Homo sapiens: one gene and its partner. The protein of the gene in region 1 interacts with the protein of each later gene in a pairwise test. Each region holds a gene or a part of one and is shown in the gene's direction. Other genes may lie near its edges.

What was found.
Region 2: the proteins of RPRD1A (region 1) and BCAR3 interact in a two-hybrid assay, tested with the Homo sapiens proteins (one large-scale study listed by BioGRID and IntAct).

The regions. Positions count from the first base shown.
Region 1 is NC_000018.10:36,056,813-36,061,909, reverse strand, and holds part of RPRD1A (regulation of nuclear pre-mRNA domain-containing protein 1A), read left to right. Parts: intron 1-5,097. UniProt on the Homo sapiens protein: Interacts with phosphorylated C-terminal heptapeptide repeat domain (CTD) of the largest RNA polymerase II subunit POLR2A, and participates in dephosphorylation of the CTD by RPAP2.
Region 2 is NC_000001.11:93,560,483-93,564,878, reverse strand, and holds the end of BCAR3 (breast cancer anti-estrogen resistance protein 3), read left to right. Parts: intron 1-2,459; coding exon 2,460-2,638; 3' UTR 2,639-3,138; downstream 3,139-4,396. UniProt on the Homo sapiens protein: Acts as an adapter protein downstream of several growth factor receptors to promote cell proliferation, migration, and redistribution of actin fibers.

The DNA.
Region 1 (5,097 bases):
ATATGCATTTCCCAGATGACTAATGACACTGAGCCTATTTTCATGTACTTATTGGCCATTTGGATGTTGTCTGGAGAAATGTCTATTCTGCCTATTTTAAAATTTGTCTTTTTATGATTGAGTTGTAAGTGTTCCCAATGTATTCTAGGTACAAGTATTGTATTAGATTCATACCACAAATATTTTCTTCCATTCAGTGGGTTGTCTTTTTACTTTCTTAATAGTGTCCTTTGAAGGTGACTGTTTTAAACTGTAAATGTCTCAGTCAATACTAGGCTAAATTTTAAAACTTAATATACATCATTAATTTATATTCATTTCTGTAGAAATATTGACCATGAACATACCTGAACTTAGAAACCAACACTAACATTTGGGCTCTTTTCTACACACACTCGCTGAAAGATCTCTATAAGAGCTGTACAAAACAAGATAGATAGGAGGAAATTCTTTGTAGTTGGTGAAGGTCACTGCCTTCCCTAGTCTAGTGATTGTATCCTTTGTACCAGCCTCTTTTATGTTATATTGGTGTCTTAACAAAACTGTAAGTGCCTCAACCCCTTAAAGTATGTTTACTCACCCTGTATTTATTGATTGTGTATTACAATGGTAAAGAAAACAAAGGGAAAACAGTTTATCCCTGCCCTCAGAATTTATAGTCTTGTGGTAAGGGCAACCAATAAACAAAAAATTTTAAATATAAATTTCGTGTTTAGTTCTTTGAAGGAGGAAATCTTTAGTTAGAGGGAAATCATCTCTGCAAGGTGACGTTTAATAAAAGACCTCTTTGAACAAGTTGCGGGGGTAGGGGGGCTTGGGCCTGCAGCCACTGGGAATATGTGAAAGTGCTGAGGTGATACATAGCTTTGGATGCAAAGAGCCAAACCTGGAAATGGTCAGCCTTTGAATGCCTGTTAACTTTGTTTCCTAAATTTTTTTTTTTTTATGAGACAGTGTCTCACTATGTTGCCGAGGCTGCTCTTGAACTCTTGGGCTCAGGTGATCTTCCTGCCTCAGCCTCCCGAGTAGCTGGGACTACAGGTGCACACTACCATGCTGGGCTTATTTTTTCTAGGGTTGGCAACAATTAAAATAATACATTATTTAAGGTTTAGATTTTCCTCCTATTTGTAATCATTTGTTGAAATCATCACTTTTTCAATAAGCTATGTTAGATATCTTTCAGGGAACTAATTACCATTTTATATTGTATTATAGGTTGGGGGGTTACATATTGGTTGTGAAGTAGATAGTGGGCTCCTTCAGGTTGTTTACCTATTTCAATTTTTAGCTCCCCAGCATACTGCGTTTGATGAAAGTTTTTAAATATTCGTTGAATTAACATTCGTATTCACTAATACGGCTTAAACTTGTAAGATGTGCTAAAATAAGTACTGTATATTCTTGGCTGTTCTTATTAATTTGGTTTTAGAAAAATGGAGAAGTGAAAGAACATTTTTCTTTTTTATTTTTTTTGAGACAGAGTCTCGCTTTGTTGCCCAGGCTGGAGTGCAGTGGCGCGATCTCGGTTCACTGCAACCTCCACCTTCCCGGGTTCATGCCATTCTCCTGTCTCAGCCTCCCAAGTAGCTGGGACTATAGGCGCCCGCCACCATGCCTGGCTAATTTTTTTGTATTTTTAGTAGAGATGGGGGTTTTACCGTGTTAGTCAGGATGGTCTCGATCTCCTGACCTCGTGATCCGCCCACCTTGGCCTCCCAAAGTGCTGGGATTACAAGCGCGAGCCACCACACCCGGCCAAAAGAACATTTTTCATTTGCTTTAAAAATATATAGCAATATAAATCCTAAAAATGAAGAGAGTCTGTTTTAAATTGACAGTTCAGTGGCTTTTATATTGTCTGATACTGTTACTTGTTTCTCTTTCAGAGTTAGAATTGAAAAAGTAAGTAGACAATGCTAGCACCTTCTAAGTTCTTATATTTAAAAGGATTAATGTTGTCAAACTGACATGGTGACTCCCATGTAGTCATCTTGCAGCTTCAATAGTTATAGTCTTTCTTAACACTTAAAAAAACTTAATTTCTTAAGATATCAAATATTGAGCCAGTATTTATTTCCGTGATCATTTCACTTTTTTAGAAGCCATTTGTTTGAATCAGGATCCAAGTAAAGTTCATTTATTGCAATTGATTACTATGTAAATAAAGTTCCTTTACATCTATGGGTGCCATCTGTCTTTTATTTTAAATGTATTCTTTGAAAAAATCAAATTGGTTGTTCCAAAGAAATTCTTATTCTAGACCAGGAATTTCTCCTACTTTCTGGTTTGAGGATCTCTTTACTCTTAAAAATTGAAGATTCTAAATCTTTTGTTTATGTGGGTTATATCTACCGCTAGTTACTACATTGGAAATTAAAACACTTAAAAATTTATTTAATAATTATTTGTTTTAAAACTATAATACTAAATCGATTCATGTTAAATAATATTTTAAAAATTTTTAATTAAGGCCAGGTATGGTGGTGCATGCCTGTAATCCCAGCACTTTGGGAGACTGAGGCAGGCAGATCACATGAGGTCAGGAGTTTGAGACCAGCCTGGGCAACATGGCAAAACCATGTCAGTACTAAAAATTTAAAAATTAGCCAGACGTGGTGGTGCACATCTGTAATCCCAGCTACTTGGGAGGCTGAGGCACAAGAATCACTTGAACCCGGGAAGCGGAGGTTGCAGTGAGCTGAGATTACTCCAAGCCTGGGTGACAGACTGTATCTCAAAAAAAAAAAGATTTTTAAAATTACAAATGGACACATTGTAATTGTATGTATTTATGGGATACAGTTTGATGTTTTGATAGATGTATATGTTGGTCTAATGATCAAATAAGGGTAGTTAGTATCCATTACCTCATGCAATTATCGTAACATAACATTTTTAATGAAAACCAATTATATTTGCTAAAAAATACCAGGGAAAGGAGTGATTATTTTACATTTTTCCAGATCTTTATAAGATCTCTCTTAATAGAAGCCTGCTGAATTCTCGTGTCTTTTTCTGCATTCAGTCTTGCTGTATCACATGACCTCTGCAAAACAACACTGTACGCTTGTGAGAGAATGAGAGTGAAAAAAGGCAAATAATAGATGAGCATTCTTGTGAAAGTAGTTCTGACTTAATTGACCCCATGAAAGTGTCTTGACCCCCTGGAATCCACAGACTGTTGGCTGAGAAGTGGACCATTTTCTGAATATTGATAATTAGATCAAGAGACTAGGATACATTGCTTTGCCTTAAGCAGACATATCCCTCTAAAATATTAATTCCCCAGAAAAGCAGAAACTGAATTTATAAAATTTCCCTTTGGCCCGTAACGTAATTTTATTTAGGTTCTCTTTCCTGTGACGTTAAGGTTTTTTAAAAAAAGTTGTTGATTTGATGTTTTTACATCTGATTCAACAAATTATCTCTACATTTCTTATAAAAATAAAAGTGTGTTCCTACATTAAACAAACAATCTGTAATTTTACAGGCTTTTTTTCTTGATAAAATAAATTTTTCATTCAAAATGTACAAGTAGAAGTTTCTTCTGTTGGTTTTCTGGCCGGGCGCAGTGGCTCATGCCTGTAATCCCAGCCAGCACTTTGGGAGGCTGAGGCGGGTGGATTGTTTGAGGCCAGGAGTTTGAGACCAGCCTGGGTAACGTGGCAAAACCCTGTCTCTACTAAAAATACAAAAATTAACAGGGTGTGGTGGTGCATGACTGTAGTCCCAGCTACCCAGGAGGCTGAGGTAGGAGGATTGCTTGAGTCTGGAGGCAGAGGTTGCAATGAGCCATGATCTGACCAGTGCAGTCTGGCCTGGGCAACAGAGTGAGACCCTGTCACAAAAAATACAAGAAGTTTCTTCTATTAGGTTTCTTTATTCAAGAAATACTTGTTGACCTCCTTACTGTCTTAGTGAACAAGGATGATTGAGCAGATAAAGGGACATACAGCTGTGTTCATGGAGCTTACATATCAGCCAGGCAAATGGACTTTGCCAAACTAGTAACTGCACAGTAATACAAAGGAGAAATGTAATTGGGAACCTATCCTAGTTTATGGAATCAGGGAAGGGTCCTTTGGTTTAAGATTTGAAGTATATGTAGAATTTACTAGGAGCTGTACCAAGAATATAGACATAGGTTTTAGCTGTTGTAATCATTTGAATGTGGTGTTATGTAGAACAGCATTATTTGACTTTTCAAATTGAACATTTCTGTTCATAAGTCCTTTCTGGAGGTAGACAGGATAATACACATTTAGATAAACTTTTATTTATTTATTTATTTTTTTGAGACAGGGTCTTACTCTCTCACCCAGGCTAGAGTGCAGTGGCATGATCTCAACTCACAGCAACCTCTGCCTCCTGGGCTTAAGCGATCCTCCCACTTCAGCCCCCTGAGTACTGGGACTATAGGTGCACACCACCATGCCTGGCTAATAATTTTTTTTGTATTTTTTGTAGAGACCGTGTTTGCCATATTGCCCAGGCTGGTCTCAAACTCCTGGGCTCAAGTGATCCTCCCGTTTTGGCCTCCCAAAGTGCTGGGATTACAGGCATGAGCCATGGAGCCTGGGCTAGATAAACGTTTAGTGTTTTATGTCTGAAAATAAGTGACTTAAGGTGTGTGTATGTGTGTGTGTGTGTGATATATATATATGTTTGTTGTTGTTGTTCTTGTTTTTTGAGAGACAGGGTTTGGCTCTGTTGCCCAGGCTGGAGTGTGGTGGCCAATCAAGGCCCACTGCAGCCCCAACCTCCCAGGCTCAATCAATCCTCCTGAGTAGCTAGGACCACAGGTGCATGCTACCATGACTGGCTGATTTTTTTTTTTTTTTTTTTTTTTTTTTTTGTAGAAACAGGGTCTAGCTGTGTTGCTGAGGCTGGTCTCGAACTCCTGGGCTCAGATGATCCTCCTGTCTTGGCCTCCCAACGTGCTGGGATTATAGATGTCAGCATCATGCCTCACCTTTTTTATTTATTTTTGTTTGTTAAAATGTATTAAGAGGATTATACAGAAAAAAGAAAAATAGAAGGACTATAATGATGAATTATTTATTTAGTCACCTTGCTGTCATCTGAGCTTTTTGG
Region 2 (4,396 bases), on another chromosome or scaffold:
CCTTAAGCAGACCACATCCTCTCTTAGATGGAATAGAGTTAAGAAATAGGCCCACACATATGGCTGACAGTTGATTTTCAACAAAGGTGCCAAAATAATTCACTGGATAAAGTATAATCCTGCAAATGGTATCTGCTATTGGATATCCATATGCAAAAAAGTGAATCTCGATCCTTACCTCATACCATACACAATAATCCAAAATGGATCATAGACCCAAAATGTAAGAGCTAAAGTATAACCTTCTGTAAGAAAACATAGGAGAAATTCTTTGTGCCCTTAAGCTAAGTAAAGACTTCTTGGCCAGGCACGGTGGCTCACGCCTGTAATCCCAGCATTTTGGGAGGCTGAGGCAGGCGGATCACCTGAGGTCGGGAGTTCAAGACCAGCCTGACCAACGTGGAGAAACCCCGTCTCTACTAAAAATACAAAATTAGCCGGGCGTGGTGGCGCATGCCTGTAATCTCAGCTACTCGGGAGGCTGAGGCAGGAGAATTGCTTGAACCCAGGAGGCAGAGGTTGCACCATTGCACTTCAGCCTGGGCAACAAAAGCAAAACTCCATCTCAAAAAAAAAAAAAAAAAAAAAGAAAGAAAGAAATTCTTAGGACACAAAAAGCATGAACCACAGCAGAAAACATTGAGTACACATATATCTGATAAAGGACTTACATCTAGGCTATACAAAGAACTCTTACAACTCAGTGAGAAGATAAAATTTAAATAGACAAAAATTTGAATAGACACTACATCAGAGAAGGCATACAAATGACAACTACATGAAAAGATGTTCAAAGCATTCATCATTAGGGAAATGTAAATTTAAACCAACCACAATGAGATACCACCACACTATCTAGAATGGCTACAACTAAAAAGAATGATAGGCCAGGCACGGTGGCTAATGTCTGTAATCCCAGCACTTTGGGAGGTCGAGGCGGGTGGATCACCTGAGGTCAAAAGTTCGAGACCAGCCTGGCCAACATGGCAAAACCCCGTCTCTACTGAAAATACAAAAAATTAGCCAGGCGTGGTAGCACACACCTGTAGTCCCAGCTACTTGGGAGGCTGAGGCAGGAGAATTGCTTGAACCCGAGAGGTAGAGGTTGTGGTGAGCCAGGATCGTGCCACTGCACTCCAGCCTGGGCAACACAGCGAGACTCCTTCTCAAAAAAATAAAAATAAAAAATGATAAAACTAAGGGTTGGCAGCATGTGGAAAAACTGGAGTCTTCATATGTTACTGCTGTGAATATAAAATGATACAGCCATTTTGGAATAGAGTTTAATAGTTTCTTTAAAAGTAAACATATACTGATTGTATGACCCAATAATTCCTTTCCTAGAGAAATGAAAACACATGTCCACACAAGATTTGTACACAAGTGTTCACAACCACTTACTCATAGCAGCCAGAAGCAATCCAAATGTCATCAATTGGTGAATGGATAAACAAAAACAATGGCATGTCCATAAAACTGAATATTGATCAGTAAGAATGATTAGCATGCAACATATGGAATAATCTCAAAAACATCATGCTAAGTGAAAGAAGTCACACATTAAAAAGTTCATAGTGGATGATTCCATTTATCCCATATTTCTAGAAAAGGCAAAACAGTAGCAACAGAAAGCAGATCAGTGGTTGACTGAGGTCTGCAGTAGGAACAGGAATTGACTGCAAAGAGGTACTAAGGTGATGGAAGTGTTCTAAGACTGGTGGTAATGGTTTATGTAAAAACTTACCATCATAAATCAAACTCCACAGCCAAAAACAGGTGAATCATATGACATGTAAACTATACATCAGTAAAGTTGGTAAAAACAAGTAACGAACTCCTAGGTACAATGAACCCTCCTTCCCACAGCACTACTTCCCACAGTGGTTTGTACAAACCAATTTCACTCTATTGTTTTTTAATGAGTTTACCTGTTATTTCTTCTCTGAAGGTGCTTAGGTTCTGCAGGGTGGGGCTCTGCTCTCCCTTATATAGAACAGATCCTATATTTTTCTTTGGGGACATTTTTTAAAGTTCTGAGAGAGAGAAGATGTTCATTTTGATGCTACTTTAAGCAAGCTTTCAGTCTATTTTTTTTTTTTTTTTTTTTTTTGAGATGGAGTCTCGCTTGTCACCCAGGCTGCAGTGCAGTGGCGCAGTCTCGCTCACTGCAAGCTCCACCTCCCGGGTTCACGCCATTCTCCTGCCTCAGCCTCCCGAGTAGCTGGGACTACAGGCGCTCGCCACCACGCCTGGCTAATTTTTTGTATTTTTTTAGTAGAGACGGGATTTCACTGTGTTAGCCAGGATGGTCTCGATCTCCTGATCTTGTGATCCACCCACCTCGGCCTCCCAAAGTGCTGGGATTACAGGCGTGAGCCACCGCGCCTGGTGCTTTCAGTCTATTTTTAACACATCTTAGGCAGAACTGAAGTAACTTTTTGTTTATTTTGTTTCATTAGGTTTTCAACCAGATGAAGAAATGAATGAAATCTGCAAGACTGAATTTCAAATGCGATTGCTATGGGGCAGCAAAGGTGCACAAGTCAATCAGACAGAGAGATATGAGAAATTCAACCAGATTTTAACTGCCCTCTCGCGTAAATTGGAACCTCCTCCTGTAAAGCAGGCAGAGCTTTGATAACTCTCCAGAGAACCTTTAGAATATCTTTTCAAGTTTCCCCAGCTTCATCTTTGGGAAAGCTTACTGTTTTTGATAAAGTAATAATGTGCAAATCTGACAATATACAAGCTTTTAGTATCCACAGGATATTAAACGTGTAAATTGCACAGAGCACACTTATTTATGAATTGTCTAAAGTTACTACTGATTTTAAAATGAATAATTTATTATTAAGGTAACTACTGCTAATGTTGATCAGCAAATTTAAGAGAAGACCTAGCTATGTTGGCTGGTTGCTTTCTATTATCATGGTATTTGACCATTTTAGTTTTAATTCCATGTCAGATAAGTGTAAATAGAAGAGTTTAAAAGCATGAAACATTTCAGAAGGTATCAGTTATATGATATTCTTTAAACAAATATGAAAAATGTAAATACTCATGAATGAAAATACATCTTTTTGTGAAACAGTTGTATCCAGTCTCTTTCATATTAAACAACTCATCTTGGTACAATAACTCTACCTCTTAGCTACCTCAAGCATGCTCTTCCCTAGGTACCGTATCCTGATAGTAAACCAAAATGAATGAAAGTGGTATGAAAAATTTAATGTTCCTGGATTAAAAGGCAGAGTGATTGATAGTGACACAAGGTAGAAACAGCTCGAGAGGACCTGGGTTCAAACTCAAGCTATGGTACTTGCTACCAGCTGGAGTTAGGCCAAGTTTACCTCATTGAATTCCATGTGCAGCATGGACACCCAGTATGATGAACATAACATCATCTCTTCACATATTTCAGAGTAATCAACTGTTTTACCTTTTCCTCTAGCTGATAAGTACAACAATGAGTTTCCTAGGTTGGCTTTCTAGGTTTCTCATTTTGCAAAGGGGATACTTTCTAGTTTCTTTCTAGTTTAGCAATATCCCTCTCAACTTTCCCTATTGTACAAAATTTGGAATATAAGACTTTAACGTATTCTGTTACTCTGCCATCAACTGTCAAACTTCTTTTAATAATCTGTTTTTCCTTCTTCTATTTTAAATAATATTAGGACCATACCAACTTTTATATTCATCTTAAACCGGCTGTGAAAATTTCTTCATGATGTTAAATAGCCTTTAAAAAATATGATTTATTGGTTACAGAAGTTACACTGTAACTTAACTATCACCCTATGATGGTTTTTAAAAATGTGCCACATTTTTTAAAAGGTGCCACGTTGTTATTTTTTGTTGAAAAAAACCAAAGCACATTTCTACTTCTGGCAATATGGTGGTTCAGATGTTCTTAGCCCTCTCACCATAACTAACTAAATCCTGAATACATTTTAATAAACATACCTTTTAGTGTATGATCAACCTTGATAGAAATCCCCAAGGAACAAACTTCTCTCCCCGCCGCACCTGAAAAAGGTACAGCACATTTGAATCAACTCCTCATGAGAACTTAAGAGCCGGGGCAGACCTAGAGGCAAAGAGTAACGTCAGCTCAGTGAATGAGAGTCTGTCTTGGGGGAACTTAAAATGCCTCCATTAAGCAGGAATCCTTAAAGGGTCCCTGTTAATGGAATAGAAAACATTCATCTGCCAGCAAAGGAAGGTTGCCAGGAAACATGACTGTCTTCACATACAGCTCCAGGAAGAAAACAATTATAATGACTATAGTGTTCAGTGAGGATTGGCAACCACACACCTGTCCTCATACAGGTCTGGAGTAAAAATTACAAAATCCAAAACCAAGAAATTGATTTACAGTGGTCCCAGGTTGGTGGTG